Linked DNA regions of Homo sapiens. The protein of the gene in region 1 interacts with the protein of each later gene in a pairwise test. Each region holds a gene or a part of one and is shown on either strand. Other genes may lie near its edges.

Region 1 (8,686 bases):
CCTTTTCCACAGGGTGGGGCCCTGCGGCTGCAGCGGGCAGGCAGGCAATCTCGAGCCTGGTTGGAGACCGTGCCCTGAGCAGCGTGGGCTATGTGGGGAAGAGCTGGGGCCCACCATCTCTCCAGCACCCCAAACCCAGATTCTGATTTGTGGGGCTAGCAGGGCTTAGCTAGGAAAGCGGTAGGAGGGAGGGGATTGCACAGGACGCTTGTACTCAGGGACCCCATCAATCAGGGGCAAGAAGTGGGTGATGGTTAACTGGGTCTTGATTTTTACAAAGGCAGGACGTACGAATGATGTTATTTCTGGCAAGGAGGACACGGCTGCTGTGGTTGATTGGCTGTGGAATTCCAGGGGAGCAAGGCACTAGGAAGTGGGGAACGCTGCCAGGCCCAGCAGCTCATCAGGAGCTTGCACTTGGCCCAGTTAGGGCTGGCCGTGGGACGGGCTTGTTGAAGCTGCTGCCGCCATAAGCTGCCCCTCTGCACCAGGAGACAGATCCCATTACCCCACCTACAGCTGCTTCCTGGTACAAGAGAAGAGTTACCATTTGAAATGACTCCACAGGAGAGTCTGACAAACATGTTTGCTTTTCACTGACAATTAAAATTGTTTTGCTGCTAATCTTGTTTTATTGTGGTCTTTCATCCATCAGCAAGCATCCCTGCACGCAAGATCAGAGTTGGGTAAATACATCCAGACCCTGCCAGGATTAGGGCAAGAGGGAGTGCTCTGGGCCGGCAGATCTTTTTCGGAAATTCTCACTTCTTGGAGCACTAAAGGGTTGTTAGTCTATCTGGGCAAGCCTCGTTTCCCTGGAGAAAATGGAGTCTCAGAGATTAGTGACTGGTCCTAGAGCTAATGAGTGACCAAAGTGTGACCAGAGCCCAGGTCTGCTTCTCAACCCAGGGCACTTTGATTCCAGATTGAGATGTAAGGTGACAGGTGCCTTAATAGTGGCGCAAAAGATGTGCATTCCCCTCTTCCTCCCTCCCCGCTCCCTGCTCCCCCAGCGGCACCCTGACCTTCCTCAAATGCAGAATCAAGATTTCAGCAGGGGGGCCAGCCCTTTCCCTGCCCCACCCTCCTCGAATTCAGTGACTCAGGAGTGGGAAGGGGGTTAGCTATGCCCTTAGAAGGGGGCCAGCTTCTGCAGAGGCCACTGGAAAACTCATCAGGATTCTCACTCACAAAGCCACTGCCACATTCTAAGTAGGAAGTCGGAGTTGGAAATGAGGCTGGTGTGAGACACAATAAATGGCTCATCGCCAGGAAACTGGGGAGTAGGGCGGCCAAGGGAGGGCGGCGAGCGTGGAATCCCAAGGCTAAGTCACGTCCCTCCCATCCTCAGGACTGGGCTGTTGCTCTGGTGAGATGAATGAAGATCCTGCTCCACGGCGTCACAGGTGGATGCTTACATAGAATGCCGGGCTCTGGGGGACTTGACGTGGTTTCAGCCGCTGCAGCATCGCCCCACAGAGATTCTGTGCTCTTCCTGTTCACCAGCCCGCTGTCTGCCATGGGGATTGGTCACGTGTTAACCACCTTTCGTTCAAGCTGTTTCGGGATCAGACTTTTCCTTCTCTGGTACATGGGAGACCTTTCCTCTCTGCAGCTCCTGAATGTACAAAGCCCCTGGTGCCTACCCGTGGTTACTGTGTGTGTGTGTGTGTGTGTGTGTGTGTGTGTGTGTCTGTGCGCGCGCGCGCGCGTGCGTACACCTGGGAACGGTTATGCACACCCTCACAGGACTGCATCCACACAAGCTACTCGGCGTGGTGGGCTGGGCCGAGAGACAGTCAGCTGGTCTCTTTGCTAAGCTACCAGAAGTCGGCTAACAAAATGAAAAAACTTCTCCAGCAGGGGGCGCTGGTTCCTAAGTCAGAGAAAGGATTTCGGGGAACACAAGGTTAGACACTTTCTGGTGCAGTCCCCACAAGCCACCTTAGGCTTTAAAGTCAACTTGACACGTCCCACGAGGAAGGGGGCAGGTGAGATGTGATACGTTCAGGAATCAACGACCCTACGGGAGCAGCTACAGTGACAGCAGTAGCTATGGTAACCAACGTACAAAGCTGGGCTGTGAACTAGCTGTTGGAGTCGTTTCAGCAAGCGCGTCCTGAAGCAGTGCCGTTGACGCCCCGCCCCTCGCTTCTCCAATGCTGGAATTGTAGCTCTCACTTCTCTCCTTGCCCTCTGTCCCCTTTTCCTAGGCACGGATGCTTCATCTCCCGAGGACCCGGGAGGCCTCCTGAGCCTTTGCTGAGCTTTCCCTGGTGCTCCTTTTTGCAGTCCAGCGAATCCAGGGGACTGGGGCACACTGCAAGGGGTTGTGGTGGTGCTGGGGCTGCCAGAGGAGTGTCCCAACCAAGAAACTGGCGAAGCTGCAGACTCGACCTAGCAGTCCCCCACCTCTGGCCCACAGAGTTGGAGCCAGGCCCTGTCTTGGTTCTCAATGCACTCAAAAGCTTAAATCCTAGTAAACCCTCCACTGCGGAGCGAGAAAAGCCAAAGAAACAGAAACAACCCATGTGGGGCTGTTGGAGGGTCATTCATCACCCCCATGGCCCCCGCCAGGGCAGCAGTGTGGGTGTGTGTGCGGGTCGGGGTGGAAGGATTTACACGTCTGTACTAATAGCCCTTGGATTGGTGAAGGCCTCACGCCCAGAGCCTGGCCAGGTCACCGGGTAACTCTGGGGTGCTGCCAATTTGAGGGATGGGGGTCCCCCCTCTTTGTAGTATGTGGGAGCAAAGGAGAGCCTCTCGCCTCCACCCCCATTGGGCACCATGTCAGCCGTCCGTATGTAAAAGGGGGAGCTGTATGGGGAGCAGGTAGTGCAGTGGCTCGCGGCCACCCCACAGGGCTGGCTGCAGGGCTCGCTGGTGAGAGGCGCCAGGCTGCCTCTGCCGTCCAGGGCTTGGGAGCTGCAGGCATTGCAGGTGGGGCCTCTGGGATGCGTGGGAAGGTCGTGCTCCCGCTCCTCCTCCTCGTCTGCAACCTCGGTTCCGCTCTTCTTGCAGCAGTAATACTGTGCGGAAGGGCAGAGGGATGCCTGAGAGGGTGAATGCTCCCCCCGCCCCATGCATTTTTGAGCGTGCACAGGTGCCCCTGTCCCCTGCTCCATGGAGAACCTAGTGCCAGGCACTGAACCCCAGGGGCCTGCTCCACAAGTTTCTAATCCCAGCTTTGCAAGGCCAGTACTGCTTTCCTTTTCCCCTCCCACCACTCCTCGCAGTAACTCCAGGCTGTAGTTGAGCGGGGCAGGGACACACACATCATATTGAGGACAGGGCTGGAGCTGCTGGCGGCAGCTTTCAGAGCCTCCCCAGAATGGTGCTCTTCCCATGCTCCTGAAATCTCAGAGGTGCAGGAGACACAACCCAATGACCCCGTATCTTTCCAGCACACTTTCTGTGTGCTCTGAGTGGGCAGGCTGGGGGGCACTTAGCTCCCTTCCGACCAGCCCCAACTCCCATCCTCCTTGACTTACGCCTGCTACATTCCATAGCTTTGGGCTCTGTGGGCCCTGAAGTCGGCCTCCAGTTTCTGCCCCCATAATGAAAAAGAGGTTTGCTGGTGGCCTGGCAGCCTCTGGCTACGGGTCCCGGGGACTGACCTGGAGCCTGCAGTAGCACAGGACGGCAATGATGCAGAGGAGGATCACCGTAGCTAGGATTCCGCCAGTGATCACAACCGTTCCCGCTGTCATCCGCCCGGCGCCCCATCAAACTCTGCAAAGATGTGCGGAGGGCTGAGGACCAGCTGTGGCTGCAGCCCTGGGCTGGGCCGGGGGGAGTCTTCCTGGAACTGCCCCGAGGCTGGGGCAGGGGGCCTGAGAGCAGCAGGTGCCGGGAGGGCCAGGCCCCAGGGGTTTCCTGAAGGCTGAGGACGACTGTGGCTCCAGACTGGGCCAGCCTAAGTGGGCGAAGTTGAGTACCCAGTTTCAAAAAGTTCTCACGATCTTTCCCCTTTGGTGCTCTTCTCGCCTTTCCTCTCCCGTCACACCCTTCTTAGCTCCCGCTTCTGCGTGGCTGCAGACACAGAGGAACAGCTGCCGCTGATTGCGGGGCTCCTCCCTGTGTGGCATCATGCTAAGCACCCCCACGCATCTTACTACATCCTCGCGATAACCCTTCGGGGCAGTTATTAGCTATCCCTACCGCACGCATGCTGAACGGGGCTGCGAATAATTTGGCTGCGATTCCACCCAGCCCGTTCATCCCAAAGGCTGTGCTCTTGATCCCCGCCCTCTTGGCACACACCCCAGTGGTCCCTGAGCCTTTGGCCCGGGCTGGCGGGGAAAGGGCCACATCTCGAAAACACCAGGTGGCTCTTCTCTGGCTCAAACCAGCACTTCTTTTGGGGGTATCTCTCTTCTCCTTCAAACCCTCCTGGAAAACAAAGGCAAGGCGAGCCCAGAGGGAGTGGTGTGTGGCATTCTGGGCCCTGGAAGGCTGTGGCCAAGCTGGGGAGACTGGTCCTGGCTTCTGAGGCTGAATGAACAGGACAGAGGCAAGCTCTGGGCATGAGGCTGTCATGGCTTCAGACAGATTCTCCTTTTAGGTCAGTGAATGGGGATTTCTGAGCCTCCCAGGTGCATTGGGACCAAGGGGCAGGAGGGTGGGGAATGGGAAGTTGGCATCTTGGAGATGGAAAAATGACTACGATCACTTACATTCAGTAAAGGGAACGGCGACCTGCAAGACAACAGAAAGGACAGAGATGTTGGAAGAAGAGAGTTACTCACTGAAAAAGGCCAGAAGGGTTAGATGATTCCCAGACAACCCTCATTTTGCTTTCTTCGCTGTGTGGCATATCATCAGTGAGCCCACAGACCCCAAGTCCAGGTCTCCAGCTGGGTCTCCAGCTGCTAGTAGATAGACATTTCAGTGGATGTCCCAGTGGTCATCTCAAACTCAGTTATGACAGGTTAAAGTCACCACCCTGCTCTCCAAATGGACTCCTCTCCTCCGACCTGTCTGGAGGCTCTGTTGGTGGCTCCACCAGAGCTGTCCCGAAGGGCTTTGCAAATTGTTTATTACTCAAAGGGCAAGTGGGGGCTAGAACCCAACTGCACTGTGCTCACAAAGCTATGCACCCTGGTGTGTTCACCAGGTAAAAGGGGGTGCCTTTATCTCTTTACCCAAAGATATCACATGTCCACCACTGTCCTCTTAGAGGGCTGCACCTGCCCGGCAGTGTGGCTCCAAATCCACTCCCGCTCTGTGGACCAGCAGCGTGGGCATCACCTGGGAGCACCATTAGAAAGATAGCATCTCAGGCCCCCCACAGGCCTAATGAGTCAGAGTTTGCATTTTAACAAGGTCCCAATTGAGTAGGTTGCACATTAGAGTTTGACAAGCCCATGGGACGTTCCCCTAGCTGCCCAGAATTTAAACTCCTCAAATTCTTCTTTGGCTACCCCAGTCTTCTGTCCCCCACACCAGTGAAGACTCATCACCTCTCAAGCTGCACTGGCACAATGGTTTCCTAACAAACCTTCCCAGTTTTGTCTCTGAGTACCCTTCCTGCCACCAGCTGTTAAGCCTTCCTTCATACCCCTGGGCCTTTCTGTGACTCTCATGCACCACATTGCCTGCAGGATACATTTATCTGCCCATAAACTTTTAGAGACAGCTTCAAAGACATTGCCATCCCCCACGTTCCTGCACACTTACCCTATTTATCTTTCCCTCCTCACCTCCCTTTCTTCCGCTTACGTGATCCACTGCCCCATCATGCAGTCCCACTGTTCTTTTTTTTGGAGACAGAGTCTCACTCTGTCCCTCAGTCTGGAGTGCAGTGGCACAATCTTGGCTCACTGCAACCTCTGCCTGCTGGGTTCCAGTGATTCTCGTGCCTCAGCCTCCCGAGTAGCTGGGATTATAGACGTGCAACCCCACACCGGGCTAATTTTTGTATTTTCAGTAGAAACGGGGCTTCACCATGTTGGCCAGGCTGGTCTCAAACTCCTGACCACCCACCAAGGTGGGTGATCCACCCGCCTTGGCCTCCCAAAGTGCTGGGATTACAAGTGTGAGCCATAGTCCTACAGTTCTTAAGCAGCTTATTGCCTAGTGATGAAAAGATACGGGGCAAACCTTAGGATACAGTGTGAGACTCGCAGCCACAGAATTGCAGACTAGAGTTGCGGAACCTAGAGTGGGGCAGCTACTGACTGAGGGGAGATGCTCCACTGCAGGTGTTGTATTGAGCTGAATCCTAAAAGCTGAGTGAAAGCTTATCCAGTAGACAAGGTGGGGAGGGCAGAATGAACAGTCCAGGGGTGTGAGAAAACAGTTCCAGGAACTGCGAGGGATCTGGCGAGGCTGGGACAGGCCAGGGCAGGCATGCAGCTGCAGAGGCTGCAACCCGGTCAAGGAATCCAGATGAACTCTCTTGGAGACCCTGGGGGTTTCCTGACGGGGCTTTTGACAGGGGAGCGTGTGGCCTTTCTTTTTCCATCTGTTTAAATCCTGCCCATCCTTCAAGGTTCTGAGAAGCCTCCCCTGACTGCCCCAGCCCTGAAGCTCTCTCACTTCTGGGCTCCTATTGCAATGCCCTTCATGGTTTGCTCTTCAAATCCCGCTTGGTGGGATGAGAGTCAACTTTTCATGTGGGAACATCTTGACTCCTCCACTATATTATAAGTCCTCTGGGATCAAGGGTTGTGTCTTACACGGTCTCCTATCCCCTGCAGCCTTATACACCATGCCTGACACATACCGGGTACTTAATAAAAGCTCACTGTTTAGCTTGTCACAGCCCTGGCAGTTATGACTCTGACAGACCACCAGGGGGCAGCAAGCTGTACCTCTCAGCTCAATCCCATCTGCAGACTTGAGCGTCACTGTTCGAGACCACTTTGATTTTGCCCAGGTGCATGGCGGGCCATGCTTCAGGGGTTTCTTGGGGCATCTGGAGGCGGGGTCAGATGAATCTCAGCGTGGGGAAGGCTTAGGCACTTTCACTACAGCACCACTTCATCCCCTCACCACTTCCCTGCATATTCGTCGCTGAGGGCTGCTTATGGACAGAGAGGTCTAGGAGTGACCTGAAGCTGGGGAGGCAGCAGTGATCCACCCCACAGACAGGCTTGGACTAGTGTTCCAGGATGTGCCAAGCCTATTTTAGGAGACAGGGAATTATGGAGAAGCTGTATAAGAACAGTGCCCTCCCTCCTCCCTGCCCCTGTGCTGGACCACCCCTCTTTCAGGACCACGCAGGCTGTGCACGGCAATGGCCTGGACATCGGGGGCATGGCAGTGTGGGCAGAGCTGGGGTTCTCAAGGCCCAGGTTCGAGGATCACCTGTGCCACTGAGCAGCTACCCCATATTGGAAAATGACCTTCTTTCTCACTTGTAAAGCAAAGATGAACAAAACGCTCAGCTCTCACATTCCTCTCACGTCTCCCTTGCCAGTAGGATTGCGAGGAATCGTAACCAAGGCTTGCCTCTCTTCCTCTGAATTCTCAAGTGTGACTGTGAGGAAAGAGGGGGATGGGTGTGAGAGCTCTTTGTGAACTAGAAAAGACCCCACAAACATGGTTTTGGGGGGCCTCGACATGTTGTGGCTGTTTAGGTCTGGCCTTAAAATCATAAGCCAGGAAGGGACATGTACAGGGTATGAGATGAACTAATCAGCTCTCAACCAGTTTCCCTGAAGCCCCAGTACTAATGGAAAAAAAAAATTTTTTTTTGAGACAGGGTCTTGCTCTGTCACCCAGGATGGAGTGTAGTGCTGCAATCTCGGCTCACTGCAGCCTCAACTTCCAGGGCCCAAGCGATCCTCCCACCTCAGCCTCCCAAGTAGCTGGGACCAAAGGCATGTGCTACCACGGCTGGCTAATTTCTGTACTAATGGTACAGTTTAGCATTTAAATTCCCACATTCAGTGGCTCTCTATGATTTCAGGAGGGCTCATTGTCTCTTTGCAACTAGATGCAAATGCTGGCAATATCTCCTTACACCCAAACAGCAGCCTACAGTTTACAAAGTGCTCCATTTATGCTCTCTTATGGCAGGCAGGCTCTGAGATGGCCCAAGTGGTCACTGCCTCCTGGCAGTCATGCCCTTGTGTACTCCCCTCCCCTGAGTATGGGTGTGGCCTGTAACTTGCTTTAACCAATCGAAAACAGCATGGGTAATGGGATGTCACTTCTGTGAATAGATTATATAAGATTCAGACTATTCTCTTGCTAGCCATTCTCTCTGATAGTTTTGATACTGAAAGTTGCCATGTTGGGGAAGAAACCTAGGGTGGCCTCTGGCCAATTCCTGGCTGGGGACTGAGGCCCTCAATCCAGCCTCCCAAAAGGAACTGAACAGCCACATACATGAGAGATGAAGTGGATCCTTCTCCAGTTGACCTTTGGGATGAATTGACAACCCCAGCTGAGACCTTGAGGCAGCGGGTCAACCAGCCATGTCTGGACTCCTGACCCACAGAAACTGATAATCACTGTGTGTTGTTTTAAGCTGCTGAGTTTGTGGTAGTTTGTGACGCAGCAAAAGATAACGAATACATTCTTGAATCTTACAAAAGCCCCAGCAATGCTGGAGGAGAAGCGAGACCATTAAGTCATTTGCCTAAAGTCATAGGATAACAAGTGCCTGAGTCAGGGCCCACGGGCCAGTGCTGTGGAGTTTCTAACACACCAGCTGCCTCCTGAGGTGTCCTGAGGA
Region 2 (6,843 bases), on another chromosome or scaffold:
CTGGAGTGCAGTGGTGCAATTTTGGCTCACTGCAATCTCCGCTCCCCAGGTTTTCATGCAATTTTCCTGCCTCAGCTTCCAGAGTAGCTGGGATTACAGGCGCGCACCACCATGCCCAGCTAATATTTGGTTTTAGTAGAGATGGGGTTTAACCATGTTGGCCAGGCTTGTCTCTAACTCCTGACCTCAGATGATCCACCTGCCTCTGCCCCCCCAGGTGTTGGGATTACAGGTGTGAGCCACCACACCCAGCTTTGAATTCTATTTGTTATCCTGGATTTTTAGTACCTAAAGACCCAGTCTTACTCCACAAAAAGAACACTTTATATTGATATTCCAGGTCAGGAGGAATTCCATTTCTTGGCAAAGAAACCTATAGGCCTGCTGTGAGTTGGTTACAAATACCATAAAGACACGATCAGTTTTGCCATGTAAAATAATTTGTACAAACCCTGACAAAGTGTCTTCTAATTATCAGCATTTATGGAGGAAGGGTCAATCTACAGATAATAACCAATCAATGGACCTTTGAAATAGTCAGACATAACAAAAAATAGCTACTTTGCCAAACCACAATTTTCAAACAAGGTATCCTCTTGGTGGTTTCAGATTAGGAACAGAGTAATACTTTCATAGTTTAGCCAAAATTTAGTGTTAGAATTATATTAACGTCTATACAATTAAGTAGTTTTATAGCTACATCAATCATTTAATTTGATCTTCACCAACACGCTACGAAGTACTGGGCAAATATCTTACCTAGATGAGGAAACTGAGGCTCAGAAAAGTCCAGGCTCTCTGCTCTTGAGTAAAAGCTGGGATTAAACCCTGGACTTTCTGAAACAATTCAGTCTTTTTGACAGTACCGAGCAACTTTCCAGAAAGCATATATGGAAACAGAATACAAAGTATTACTTAACTAACTCTTAATTACTCTAAATTTTGGATTAGAACCTAAGCAAATATGTTCTTTTAGTAAATTTAATTAGAACTAAATTTCAATGTTTTTAAATTCAAAGATCTGATACAACTTACTGCATTTATATGTCAATCACTATGAAATTTGTGAAGGAGAAATATCTGCCTGGTTCTTATTTAGAGTAAGACTTAATTGCTTGTCCACAGATGAGCACCCAGAAATAAGATATAAACCATTTTCAGGGGAAAACATGCATGCATTTATTTTTAAGAATTCCCAATAAGGGGGGAAAAATTCAACATCTTTAAAAATGTGTTTATTTTTTAAAAAATCAGTTGTGTACAAAAGTGTTTCGTAGTTTTTAATTCTCAAGACAAATACCCCAACCTTCCACCCCACAGCCCACCCTGCTTCAATGGTATTTCTGGTAACCCACCCATTTTCCCCTTACAGGAAGTTAACGGCTCAGAATAGACCCTCCTACAGAATTTATCATCACTAACAGATTGTTTAGAATAGAGATCTAGAGAAGCTAACAAGCAAGGTTCCCTATAATGGCAGTAGACTTCCAGCAGACACCACAACAAAGCACCATCAATTGCTGAAAGCTAAAAAATAGATATTATTTTCAATAATATTTCATTTTCTATTGGAAAAGTTTTTTAAATTACATTAAATAAGTCTCTTTCCCCCCAAAGAAATAGTCTAGCTTTTATTATGATGCCTGTAAAAAGTAGGTAACAGCAAGCAGACAAGGATCGTTAACAGCACAGTGTAATGATTTCTATCCACTCACACCTATAATCAAACTGACAAACTGTGCCACACCTGATTATATATAGCAGCATGGTTGAAATAACCAAGCAAAAGGTGACACATTCAAGACTTCCATTTAGGTGATTGCAAGTTCATGAGGGTGTATCAGTCCAATGAAGCAGTAACAGAACAAATGGGACAAGGGAGATACTAACACTCCCCTACCCCTATGCCACAAGATCTTTGATCTATATTGCAGCAGTGCAAATAGAACGTGTGACATAATATGTAGACACTGAAGAAAAGTCACACTTGGGAATAAAGGCTATTTTATCAGTAAATACTTCAAGTTGCCTTCTTCCCAGTGACAGCAACTGGCTGATGGTAAGCATTTACTTTAAACTGATACTAAAAAGAATGGAAACGTAATTTTTAAATCAATGGTTTGTACCCTGGAATTGAAATTCCTTGAACTAGAAAAAGTGATTAATACAACATTTTGTAGAAGTCCATGAAATAAAGTTAACTGTAAACAGACGGCTTCCTTTTTCCTATCTAAACATTGTTTCCCTCTACATACTAGAAGGTATACCTGGCTCCAGCTGTTCCCTACCCCAATCCATCTTAAATCTTTAAAACAATAACAACAAAAATTCATAATTTCCTATTTTGCTACATAGGATTGTAAAACATTACCATACACCTACTGCACAGTTTTAAAAGCTCAAATCAGGCATACACTTATACCCAAGATCTGCTTTTCACATTGGTAAACTTATTAAGCAGCCTCAACAGTAATACAGTATGCTGCATTCTGTAGTGCATAAATAAGCAAAATCCGTTTAAACTGCCAATTCTTTCTTACAGATACTTAAAAAGAATTATTTTGCATAGTTTTATGTGCCAACAATCATAAATGTGTATTACTTCTAAAAAATGAAAAAAAAAATCAAGTCTTCCATTTCATAGATTATTCTCTTCAAAAGCAAAATACTTAGACTCCATTTATATATCCTTGAATGTGTTACGTGTTTAAGTAAATCATAGTCGTGATTCCAAACATTTCGGGGTGCCAACTCAGAGCACCTAATTCAGTACCTAGTTCCTCAAATATTTATATACCACTGAATACTTATTTGGGTCCACTAACTGCCATTCATTCATTCATTCATTCATCAGTACTGAAATACTATACAGCTAATTATTTCTTCTTTTAAAAGAGGCACATACTCAGGAAACAGGCCTGATTATAACAAAAGCCTACTGGAGCATCAGTGACTTCTAACAAATCGGCCTGCCCTAAATGGGATTTCACTGGATTTTTTTTTTAACATAATTTTTGAGGCTTTTAAAACTGACAAACGGAGCCAACTCAAAAATATTAAGAATTACAAAAATAATTTCCACCAGGGTACTTTTCCCCTAGGCCTGACCTTTTAGTGTCTTTTTGTCCAAACATATTTAAGACCAGAGGAAAAAAGCAATTGCTTTAGTTTCTATGTTTGGGTAACTAAATCTACCCACAGACAAGAGAATAACAAAAACCAAACAGTACAGTGGGAAATATACCAGAAAGGAAAAAAAAGATCATCACATTAAATGTAAATGAGGTAAATTTTTATAATAAAGAATCTTTTATGAAGAATGTCTCAAACCAAATATTGTACTTTCCAATTTCTTGGGCACTGGGGATGCTGAAGTGTAGTTAGATGAGTATATAACCCTATAGGGCTCATGTGCATAAAAATCAAAGCAGGATATAGCTGCCTCCAAGAGCATGTATGTATGTATATATGTAAAATGCTTGACCTTTAGAAACCTCTGAGCTCTCTCACCTTTGTTTAACCACAGGACAATTAAATATACCCTGATAATACAGGCAAAAAATAAACTGGGTAGATGTGTCTGATATTTTTAAACCCAAATTCTACTAATACTACCAAGTTGCCCTCCACTTAAAAAAAGTAGTTCTAACCAACACTGGAGAAAAACCATCCACATTTTCACACAATCCCACCTTACTTCAAAATATAAAGTACGAGGTTTCAGGTATTTAAAATAAATAAAGAAAAATCTTGTTTCCTTTGGCATCTTTAGAAAATAAACTACAGCAATAAAAAGAGGTGATTGTATAAAGACATGCGTAAGCAAACATATGGGGAAAAAACAGCAACTTGTGTTTAGTATGTAATAATATCAGCTATAAGAGTTTACTGTTAATTAGGAAAGCCTTACAAATTTTTGGAAGAACCTTCACATCTTTAACATTACAATATATTTAATAATGGTTCTTTTATTGCTTCTAGTATCAAGATTATTGAGAAGTCAAATGAAGTTATGCTGACGTTATGATTCAAAAATTATCTTCCAAACATTTAACGATTATAATTTAAGATAAATAACACTTAAAGAAAGCAAACCTTTTATAATATGACTTTCAATATACAGCCTTACTTTAATTCAGTCTGATTCCATTACATTTTTGTTATTTTGTATTGGTCCTAAAAATTTAAAAAGAATTGTATTTCTATATATAGAACTGCCTGCATAAATCCACTTCAACCTTCATAAAATGGTTACATTAGTGTGTGATCTTGCAAAACTAATAATTTTCAAACTTTTGAACTTAGAATGAAATGTAAATTTAATACAAATAGTCTGACTATGTACAAGAGAAGGTAAAGTTTTCAATTCTCGTATTATCAGAAACATCATAAAGAAAGCTAGATTTATAACACACTTCTATTCCTATGTGCATCTGAAGTATGTACAATAAAACACCAACACAGCTTTCATGTGTCAATAGGGGAAGTGCAAGCAAGAATGACTTGAAGTATCCAATAAAGCAATCTCTATAGACCCCAAAATCAGGCTAAAAACTGCAAACAGCTGACTGCATCCTTGCCAGTTCTCAAAGAAAAATTTCATCACTAAAAAATAGGTGTCAAATTCACTGAAAAACTAAGTTGGGTTCTTTCATTAAACCTGGGAATAATGTAACATCAAGTATTTACTATTTTTGCAAGAGAAATAAAATTGGCAGTTCCATTTTTACATTACTTAAGAAAAATTTAAGAGTGTTTGAAGAACTGGGACAAGACATTCCAAACCTACGACCTAAAAATGAAGCAAGGGATACATACTGTCCTTCAGCACATTTCCCCACCTGATACAGAGAAATTTACCATTAGAATATTAGCTGTGTGTGGCAAGGCGGGGGTGGGGGGGGTGAAGGGGGAATCAGACACTGTCCCAGTCTGTTGACAAGGACAAAAAGGCTCTGAATAGGTCACCATCTTCAATTCTGAATAAATTTCATATTTAAGAATTCTCAAATGCTTAAAATGGTGGTCTTTTCAGCTACCCATCCTAAGAAGTCAAGTACAAGCATGCAAGTAAATTCACAGGCACAGAGGATCCATGTTAAAAACAGTTAAGGTAGCTGTGATGCAACACCAACAATTTGAATGGCCCTGACACACTCAAAATATTATCTTAATTATTCAACAAAATCCTGAAGCAAACTCTTGCTAGTCTTGGTACACTGCTAAACACTAAAGTAGCATGTTTCTTCCATGGTTTTAGCTTAGCTCAGGGAATTTTTACACTATTAAGAAAAAAAATTAAAGTATTTCCCCTTTTTAAATTTACACAGACGTTTAATTAGCTTTATTTACAGAGCAGGGATTTTTTTTTTTCAGTCTCCAATGGTGCCTAGATAACATCATTAGGCAAGAATGCCAGTTTAAAAGAAATCTATGCAGAATCCTAAAAATAACAGATGTTGGTGCTCCTCAAGAAGAGGCAAGCTTGACTATATCAGCAGCTCTCTATGCCTCAGTTACTCAGAAGCAATTCTGTTGCAGTCTCTACATCCCATGATTTTGAAGACAAGGCCACTATTACTGCATTCTGTAGAGAAGAAAAGGGGACAGGAAATTAAATCTCAAGGAAACATTTAAACAATACTGAATCATTCACTCTTTATACTGGGAATTAACACCTTGTTTCTTTTCTGTAAGTTGATTTACATTTGCAGTGCATGGAAAGCTTCTAAAATCAATGACAGTAATTAGTAAAAATAAAAAAATCACTGACTTTGAAAACAGAAAATATGTTTACCAAAACTAGATTTTCTCTTATTTTCCTTTTTTTTTTTTTTTTTTTTTTTTTTGAGACAGGGTCTTGCTCTATCACCAAGGCTGGAGTGCAGTGGCATGACTATCGCTCACTGCAGCCTCGACCTCCTGGGCCCAAGGGATTCTCTCACCTCAGCCTTCAGAGTAGCTGGAATTACAGGCACTCACTACCATGTCCAGCTAATTTTTGTAGAGATGGGTTTCGCCATGTTGCCCAGGCTGCGAATTTCTCTTATTTTCTAAACCACTTTTGTCAGCCAAGAATTTGCAATAATTTAAAATCAATCAATATATCAAAATCAACATGCCCTTATGTACTTACCCTATCAAAGCCCATAGCACATAGGTTTTCTATTTTTTTGGTGTATTCTGGACTAGAAACTGGTGCTCCAGCATACACATGTGCCCAAAGTCGAGCTGTCTGTTTGAACATTTCGGGATTTTGTTTGTACTATATGGGGGGAAAAATTGATTGACATGACATTACAGTTATAATATTTGATATATTTCAGCTCTTAATCGCCTACAATCCTACTTTTCCAAATAAAACAAATCTACATTTAAAATGTGATTCACTTTGCATTATAGACAACCTATGTCACTCGAGAAAAGACCACTTAACCTGAAGCTTCGACTCACAATTTGTGTTGACAATAATAAAGACAAGTAACATTAATCTACTTTAATCTCCAAATTCAACAAATATAACTAGCAAGACTAAAATTAGGTTAAGTGAGGTATTAAGAGATGTTCCAAACACTGGAAAGCAGCAAACATTATACAACTGAACACAGATTACTAGCTTATAAAAATATGTGGACATTAGAATAATTTTTTACGATGTAACCAGCTTTTGTATTACCCACAGCCCAGGCTAGAATACAACTAGATTCTTCTGTTTTCTTACAGCTGCATTAGTGTACAGTGATTTATGGAAACCCCACATGCAAAGTCCTAACTTATTACATAACTTGAGATGATTATAAACTCACAATAGAGTAATTTTATTAAAAGACTTCCCATATGCAT
Region 3 (7,152 bases), on another chromosome or scaffold:
CCCTTAAATACCTTTAAACCTTGGCTGCATTGCCGCTTTTATGGAATTTCACCCATAGTCTGTCTTTTTTAGTTTCCCTGATACGCATCTTTCTTAATAATAATAATAATAAATAAATAAATAGCACTTTGGGAGGCCGAGGCGGGCGGATTACCTGAGGTCGGGAGTTCAAGAGCAGCCAGGCTAACATGGTGAAACCTACCTCTCTACTAAAAATACAAAAATTAGCGGGGTGCAGTGGCGCGCGCCTGCAATCCCAGCTACTCCGGAGGCTGAGGAAGAATTGCTTGAACCTGGGAGGCAGAGGTTGTGGTGAGCCTAGATCACGCCACCGCACTCGCACTCCAGCCTGGGCTACAGAGCGAGACTTCGTCTTAAAAAAAAAAAAAAAAAAAAAAAAAAAAAAAAAAAACAAGGCATGTGGCCAGTATTCCCTGCCTATACTTGTTTTCTTTAGAAAAATGTAACTTTTAAACATAATTTGACTTGAAACGGTTTCTTTCCAGGATTTATCATTTTTTATAGGTGATTCCAGTTCAAACTATTTATTACATTAATATGTTGACAAATTGTCGTTGCTGAACAAATTTTTTATGTGCAATCATACGGAACATTTTATATTTAAGGATGTTTATATATCAAGTATATAATCATTGGCAGAAACTGGGCAGGGCGCGGTGGCTCACGCCTGTAATTCCAGCACTTTGAGAGGCTGAGGCAGGTGGATCATCTGAGGTCAAGACTTCAAGACCAGCCTGGCCAACATAGTGAATCCCTGTCTCTACTAAAAATACAAAAAATAGCGAGCGTGGTAGCACGCACCTGTAATCTCAGCTACTCGGGAGAATGAGGTGGGAGAATCGCTTGAACCCCAGGCGGCGGAGGTTGCAGTAAGCCAAGATTGCGCCACTGCACTCCAGCCTGGGTGACAGATCCAGATTCTGTCTCCAGAAAAAAAAAAAGAGAAAGAAACCTAAGAAAGCTATATTGTTTATACTCTAACATTTCTAACATTTAACTACATTTATCCATTCTCAAAGGAAGTTGGTCATCACAAGATTGGAAAATCTGTACTTCCCTGGCTTATATGACTTAATCATAAATGTCTAAATTTGACAGATGTCCCAGGAAAGAAAACTTATAAAACTACTCTGTTGCATTCTATGTGTTTATGTGACATTTGAGATCTGCATATTATACATAGCAATCTGGTTTTTAATATAATGTAGAGAGACTGAAAAAGTTTTAGCAGTTTAGCTGCCACTTTAGCTGCTTAAAGTAATATATGCATCATCTGCCCCCTTTGGTGGTAGGGATGTCAGATTCCATTCTCTGTAGGGTATTTCATACAAATCTGTTAGTCGCTGGAGGAATCAGAAACTAGACACACAACTGGTCCACCTGGCTGTCTGGTGGCAGCAGAGGAACTGGGATTTCCAGGGCAACTGACGGGGCGATAGGACAGGGCAGCAGGGAGGAAATCTGGGGACGTACATAAGATTTAGGTCCAATACAAGCACTGTGCTTTAAATACCATTCTGATTCTCATTTATGTTTAACCACCTTTATATTTAAGATCTATCCACATTGCCTTCTTCCATTTTATTCCTTCAGATTTCTACATTGTATTACATAATATATGCTGTCTTTTACTAACTGATTCATTTTGTGATAAGCATAGTTTGCCTACAACCTTTTACTAACTTAATGCATTGTCTCTCACCCCAACTCCATTCCTTAACCAAGTCTGACTGGTCAAGAAATATCCAACACCTGGTATCAACCTGCATCAACCTGCATGCTAGCAAATTAGCAAATAATAAATGCTTTTGGAACTAACTGGTTTATGGAGGTCCTCAAAAACTGGGTGGTGTGTTTATTTAATGCTAGGTCAATTTGGCAAAAATAAATGTACAGAAAGCCATTTCCAGAACAAAAAATGTCAGAATACAATTTGCCAAACAAATTTTCTAAATTACTAATTTGATGAATTGTTGAGGCTTGTTAAAAAAGTTTAAGCCCTACTAATGCCTCAGCCTTGTCTGAGGCAAGCCCAGGAGCAGGGGCAGAGCGTGAGTATACAAAAAGTGGGGAACTGCAAACTCCACTTCAGAAAAACTTCACCTATTTGTGTATCAAAAGGCTGGGGTAAATGCAAAACTAAAGCTCTGAAAAACTCTATTTGACAAACTAGCTTTCAACTGCTAGTAAAAAGCCTAGATATTGGCCAGGCACGGTGGCTTATGCCTGTAATCCAAGCACATTGGGAAGCCGAGGTGGGAGGATCACCTGAGGTCAGGAGTTCAAGACCAGCCTGGCCAAAATGGTGACACCCTGTCTCTACTAAAAAACACAAAAATTAGCCAGGCATGGTGGCGGGCGCCTGTAATCTCAGCTACTTGGGAGGCTGAGGCAGGAGAATCGCTTGAACTTGGGAGGCGGAGGTTGCAGTGAGCGGAGGTTGCACCATTGCACTCTAGCCCGGGCGACAGAGCAAGACTCCGTCTATTTAAAAAAAAAGCCTAGAAATTAAACAAAACTGGTTTTATTTCATAAGATGTTTAGAGACAGGCAATGGCTGGTGTTGGGTCAGCAGCTCAACAATGTGGCAACTGGCATCTTCGTGGTTCTCTTGGCCCTTCGTCGTGGTTCAAATAACTCCTCCAGCTCCAGTCATCACTTTGGTGTTTATGGCAGTAAGGGGGGGAGGAGGTGGCCTAGCTGCATATGTATCTTTAATCAGGAAGTAAAAGTTTTCCCAGAATTCCCAAGGCCAAAGCTGTGTCCTGAGGCCACTGAGAGTTGTTAGTTGCAACAGAGGCTGAAAGGGGAGCAATTAGCTTTTCTGGGTTCTTTAGTGAAGGCAGGTAAGGGAGAAGGGGGTTGGGAATGGCTGGCAAATTGGAGCACCAACATTACCTTTATGGATAATTTCTTTTTCAAAATGGGCAGCTGATATGTGAAGAAATATCTAACAACAATTTTAAGGTTGTAATTTGAAACTCAGTTCTGCTTTCAATCATGACATTTTTAACAGATGCATTTCAGCTATACTATTTTTTCTTGTGCCCCACTCCCCAACATTCTAGAATGGAACTAAAATAAAATTACTTAATCTTTCAAGAAAAAGTGGGAAAAAAAAATCAAAAGGCCAACAGTGGCAAGATACTTTCAACTACTCTTGATGTCATTGTCCTTCTACACCAAAGAACATCTGGAAAACATCCCCACATCCTTTGGTGTTTAAGAACTGATAGAGCTGACCAAAGTCCATGTGGTTTCCCCTGGCTCCATTAACACTGAACACTTTTTCTTCAAAAATGGAAAATTTCCTTTGTCTTTCCGTTTCATCATTTGTACCATCAAAAGGAATGTCTTCTCGATGGCGAATTAAAATTCTCTTCCAGTTTAATTTTCTGAGTCTGAAAAGAAATTTCCAAAGTAAACATTTTCAAAATGTATATTCTAGAGCATTTAAAACAGAAGTTATAAAACAGATTTATCAATGCCTTTTCCTAGAAGTAGTCTACTTTTTAAAATGTTTATAACTTTTACTTATTGATTTAGTAGAGGCAGGTCTTGCTATGTTGCTCATGCTGGTTTCAAACTCCTGGCTGCAAGTGATACTCTGGCCTCAGCCTCCCAAAGTGCTGGGATTACAGGTGTGAGTCATACACACCCCGTCCAAGAAGTCTACTTTTATCTCACAGGGATTTATTTTAATCAAATATGATTCTGGTCATAATCTCATCTCTGAACTCATTTGTTGCCCTTACTACAGCCATGTATCAGTAGTTTAGAAATGTAGGAATTACTGAATCCCAAACTACTATGGACCTTCTCAGAAATTCATTTAGTATATCAGTAGAGAAATGAGACTAGTGGCAATTCTAATGCTTCTAGAAAGCTCCTTACTTCACAGGGTATACAGTTTGCAGCATCACTAAAATGAGGGAAGGACCAGATCCATGGAAGTGGATGGGGTCATAGTGTCTGGGGCAGGAGCTCAATTCATTCAGTGCATATTTACAGAATGTCTCCTACATGCACTTGTCAGGTGACGGGGAAAATGCTGACTACATGTGATTTCTGCCATATCCATCAACTTGAGATTGAATCCCCATAAAGACACAACCCCTGGGACATACTTATCTCCACATCTCTAATAGTCATGTGTTGCTTAACAACGGGGATACATTCTGAGAAATGTATCTTTAGGCTATTTTGTTGTTGTACCACCACGACAGAGTGTACTTACACAAACCTAGATGGTACTTTTTTTGCATTTATATTTTTTCATATAGAAAACCAAATGTCCCAGCACCATTACTGAATATCATTCTGATATTCAATAGTGGGAAGATCAAGTGCCATATATCAGGTTTCTATATGTGCTCCATTATAATCTTATGGCATCACTGTTTTATGTGTTGTCCACTGTTGACCAAAACGTCACTAGGCAGCACATGACTGTATCTTGTTTAGTATTAACATTATTGACATGACTTCATATACATATGTAAAAGCAAACCTTGACCAGAATTCTTCACAGGCACTTTGTGGGCCTTCCACACAAACAACACCAGGTTTTCCAGGCATGCTAAACCCAGACAGGGAAAGCTCCTTTGCCCACTCTAGAATATTCTTTCTTTTGCATTTGTTATAGATATGATGGCTGTAGATCCAGAGTCTCGTGAAGATGAGGTCAACTGACTGGACTGTGCTTCCTGTGGTGGGTGAAGATGAAGTATCTCTGCTGACATAGCCAGAGGCGTGTTCTCTAACCCACTCTGTGGCATTCAGTATACAAACATCTCCATGACAATGTTTTTGCAGGAATGCAGTCAGATCTGTGTTCAGCTGAGTCTGCTGGGATCTACTCAATAATACTGATCTAATAGAAAAGATACAAGAAAAATATTGTCTTGGAACAGAAAACAAATTCGAGAATTGCTTTTATTCTCAGATTAATTTTGACCTCCAAAGTTGGCCAGAGCTTCTGTAACGTACCTGACAGTAATTTCAGGCAGAACTGCCGGGTATTTAAAGGGAAGAATACAGGCCAGAGAAAACATCGCCTGATTAAAGAGAAGAAGAAAAAGTGCACTAACCAATGTTTTAAGTCTCAACATGTTTCAATCCCTCTAAAAGCAAAACTGAATTACCATTTTTTCGTCAGATACATCCAGGTTCATATTGATAGTAAAGTAGACTTTTGAAGATCGCCCCTCCATTGTCTTCTTTTCAATACAATCTTTCAGTTCTGCTACAGCCAGCTGGTCATTCACTATGAGCTCATTCTCACCAGGGAACATACTGGCTAGCAGGTCTAACTCAGCAAGCTGGGCCTCCGCCTGCTCCATCTCAATCATTTTTGGACATGTGTAAGTTTCTAAGGAGGTAAAGATAAGAGAGACAATTTACATATGCAATCTTGGAAGAAATGAATACATCAACATGTGTACTTACTAAAATTGTACTTGGTTTCTTCATAAATTGTACAATTTAATTAGTCTCTTTCCCTATTACTCTACTTTCAGATATAATATGCTAAGTCCTATGCTAAGACCAGCCTGAGCAACATACTGAGACCATCTATAAAAAAACAAACACAAAAAAACTCTTAATAGTAAGTAGACACCACATTCTTCTGTGTCTAGATAGTTGAGTGGACAACTTGAGCTACCATAATGGGCAATTTCATCAAAGTAAACCAATTATGTAGTCAAAAAGCTGTATCAATAATGTAGCCAGAAGAGAGGATATGACTGGTTACACTGGAAACCTAGAATGAACAAAGTCAGTCAGAGAGTTTGGTTACGTGGATGGTCAATTTCTTCTTTTTAAGTAAATATTAATGTTTATTAGGTTTTTTTGAGACAGGGTCTAGCTCTGTCACCACAGCTGGAGTGCAGTGGCATGATCCCCGCTCACTGCAACCTCAACCTCCCACGCCCAAGCAATCCTCCCACCTCAGACTTCTGAGTAGCTAGGACCACAGGTATGCACTGCCACGCCCGGCTTCATTTTTTATTTGTAGAAACAAGGTCTTGCTATGTTGTCCAGACTGGTCTTGACCTCCTGGGCTCAAGCAATCCTCCTGCCTTGGCCTCCCAAAGTGCTAGCATTACAGGTATGAGCCACTGTGCATGGCATTTATTAGTTTTTTTTTTTTTTTTTTTGAAACGGAGTCTCGCTCTGTCACCCAGGCTGTAGTGCAGTGGCGCAATCTTGGTTCACTGCAAGCTCCACCTCGGCGCGTTCACGCCATTCTCCTGCCTCAGCCTCCCAAATAGCTGGGACTACAGGCGCCCAACACCACACCCGGTTAATTTTTTGTATTTTTAGTAGAGATGGGGTTTCACCGTGTTAGCCAGGATGGTCTTGATCTCCTGACCTCATGATCCGCCCGCCTCGGCCTCCCAAAGTGCTGGGATTACAGGTGTGAGCCACTGCGCCCGGCCTATTTATTAGTTTTTAAGAAGCAGAGGAACATAAAGAGAAAATAAGTGTTAATTGTCCTGTAGCTTAAGTCACCCCTGTTAACATTAAAACATCTTAAGCATTATACATATATATATGTGAAAAATGCTGGTATAATGTATAAATATGTACAATGTGAGATATATACAGTATACATATTTAAATCCAAAGGGGATAATATATACTTTTTCCTCCTATTTCCTATCTCCCTCCCCACCAAATATATTTTGTAGATCTATTCACTGTCAACATATAGTGATCTACCTCATTCTTTGTAACTGTCGGCTGTTATACTGAATCATGTAGATATGCCATAACTTATTTAATTCTTTACCTATTGATGGACACTTGGGTTGTTTCCACATTTTTACTAATATGAACAATCCTATAATGCAAGGTCTTTTTATATATATAGTATGGTAAACTGAATACTGTGTATTCAATAATAAACTTACAGAGGTGGATTGTTGTATCAACATGTACATTTTAAATTTTGATAGATATTGCCAAGTTACTTTCCAGAAAGTTGCCATACAGAACAGAAATTTACAATTGTACTCAGTCCCCTGCTTCTTTTCTTTAAAAGAAAATTCTTAATACATAGTTCCTTTTGGCCTAGCACGGTGGCTCACACCTGTAATCCCACCACTTGGGGAGGCCAAGGAGGGT

What was found.
Region 2: the proteins of FAM163A (region 1) and UBE2K interact in binary tests that used the Homo sapiens proteins (3 or more experiments, as listed by UniProt).
Region 3: the proteins of FAM163A (region 1) and RWDD2B interact in binary tests that used the Homo sapiens proteins (3 or more experiments, as listed by UniProt).

The regions. Positions count from the first base shown.
Region 1 is NC_000001.11:179,808,122-179,816,807, reverse strand, and holds the end of FAM163A (protein FAM163A), read right to left. Parts: intron 7,484-8,686; exon of another isoform or gene 7,362-7,483; intron 7,127-7,361; exon of another isoform or gene 6,875-7,126; intron 4,699-6,874; 5' UTR 4,677-4,698; intron 4,033-4,676; exon of another isoform or gene 3,733-4,032; 5' UTR 3,711-3,732; coding exon 3,618-3,710; intron 3,030-3,617; coding exon 2,619-3,029; 3' UTR 610-2,618; downstream 1-609.
Region 2 is NC_000004.12:39,777,104-39,783,946, reverse strand, and holds the end of UBE2K (ubiquitin-conjugating enzyme E2 K), read right to left. Parts: intron 6,266-6,843; coding exon 6,137-6,265; intron 5,588-6,136; coding exon 5,513-5,587; 3' UTR 1,155-5,512; downstream 1-1,154. UniProt on the Homo sapiens protein: Accepts ubiquitin from the E1 complex and catalyzes its covalent attachment to other proteins. In vitro, in the presence or in the absence of BRCA1-BARD1 E3 ubiquitin-protein ligase complex, catalyzes the synthesis of 'Lys-48'-linked polyubiquitin chains.
Region 3 is NC_000021.9:29,003,230-29,010,381, forward strand, and holds the end of RWDD2B (RWD domain-containing protein 2B), read right to left. Parts: intron 6,464-7,152; exon of another isoform or gene 6,366-6,463; intron 5,393-6,365; coding exon 5,166-5,392; intron 5,079-5,165; coding exon 5,011-5,078; intron 4,895-5,010; coding exon 4,532-4,894; intron 3,423-4,531; coding exon 3,188-3,422; 3' UTR 1,155-3,187; downstream 1-1,154.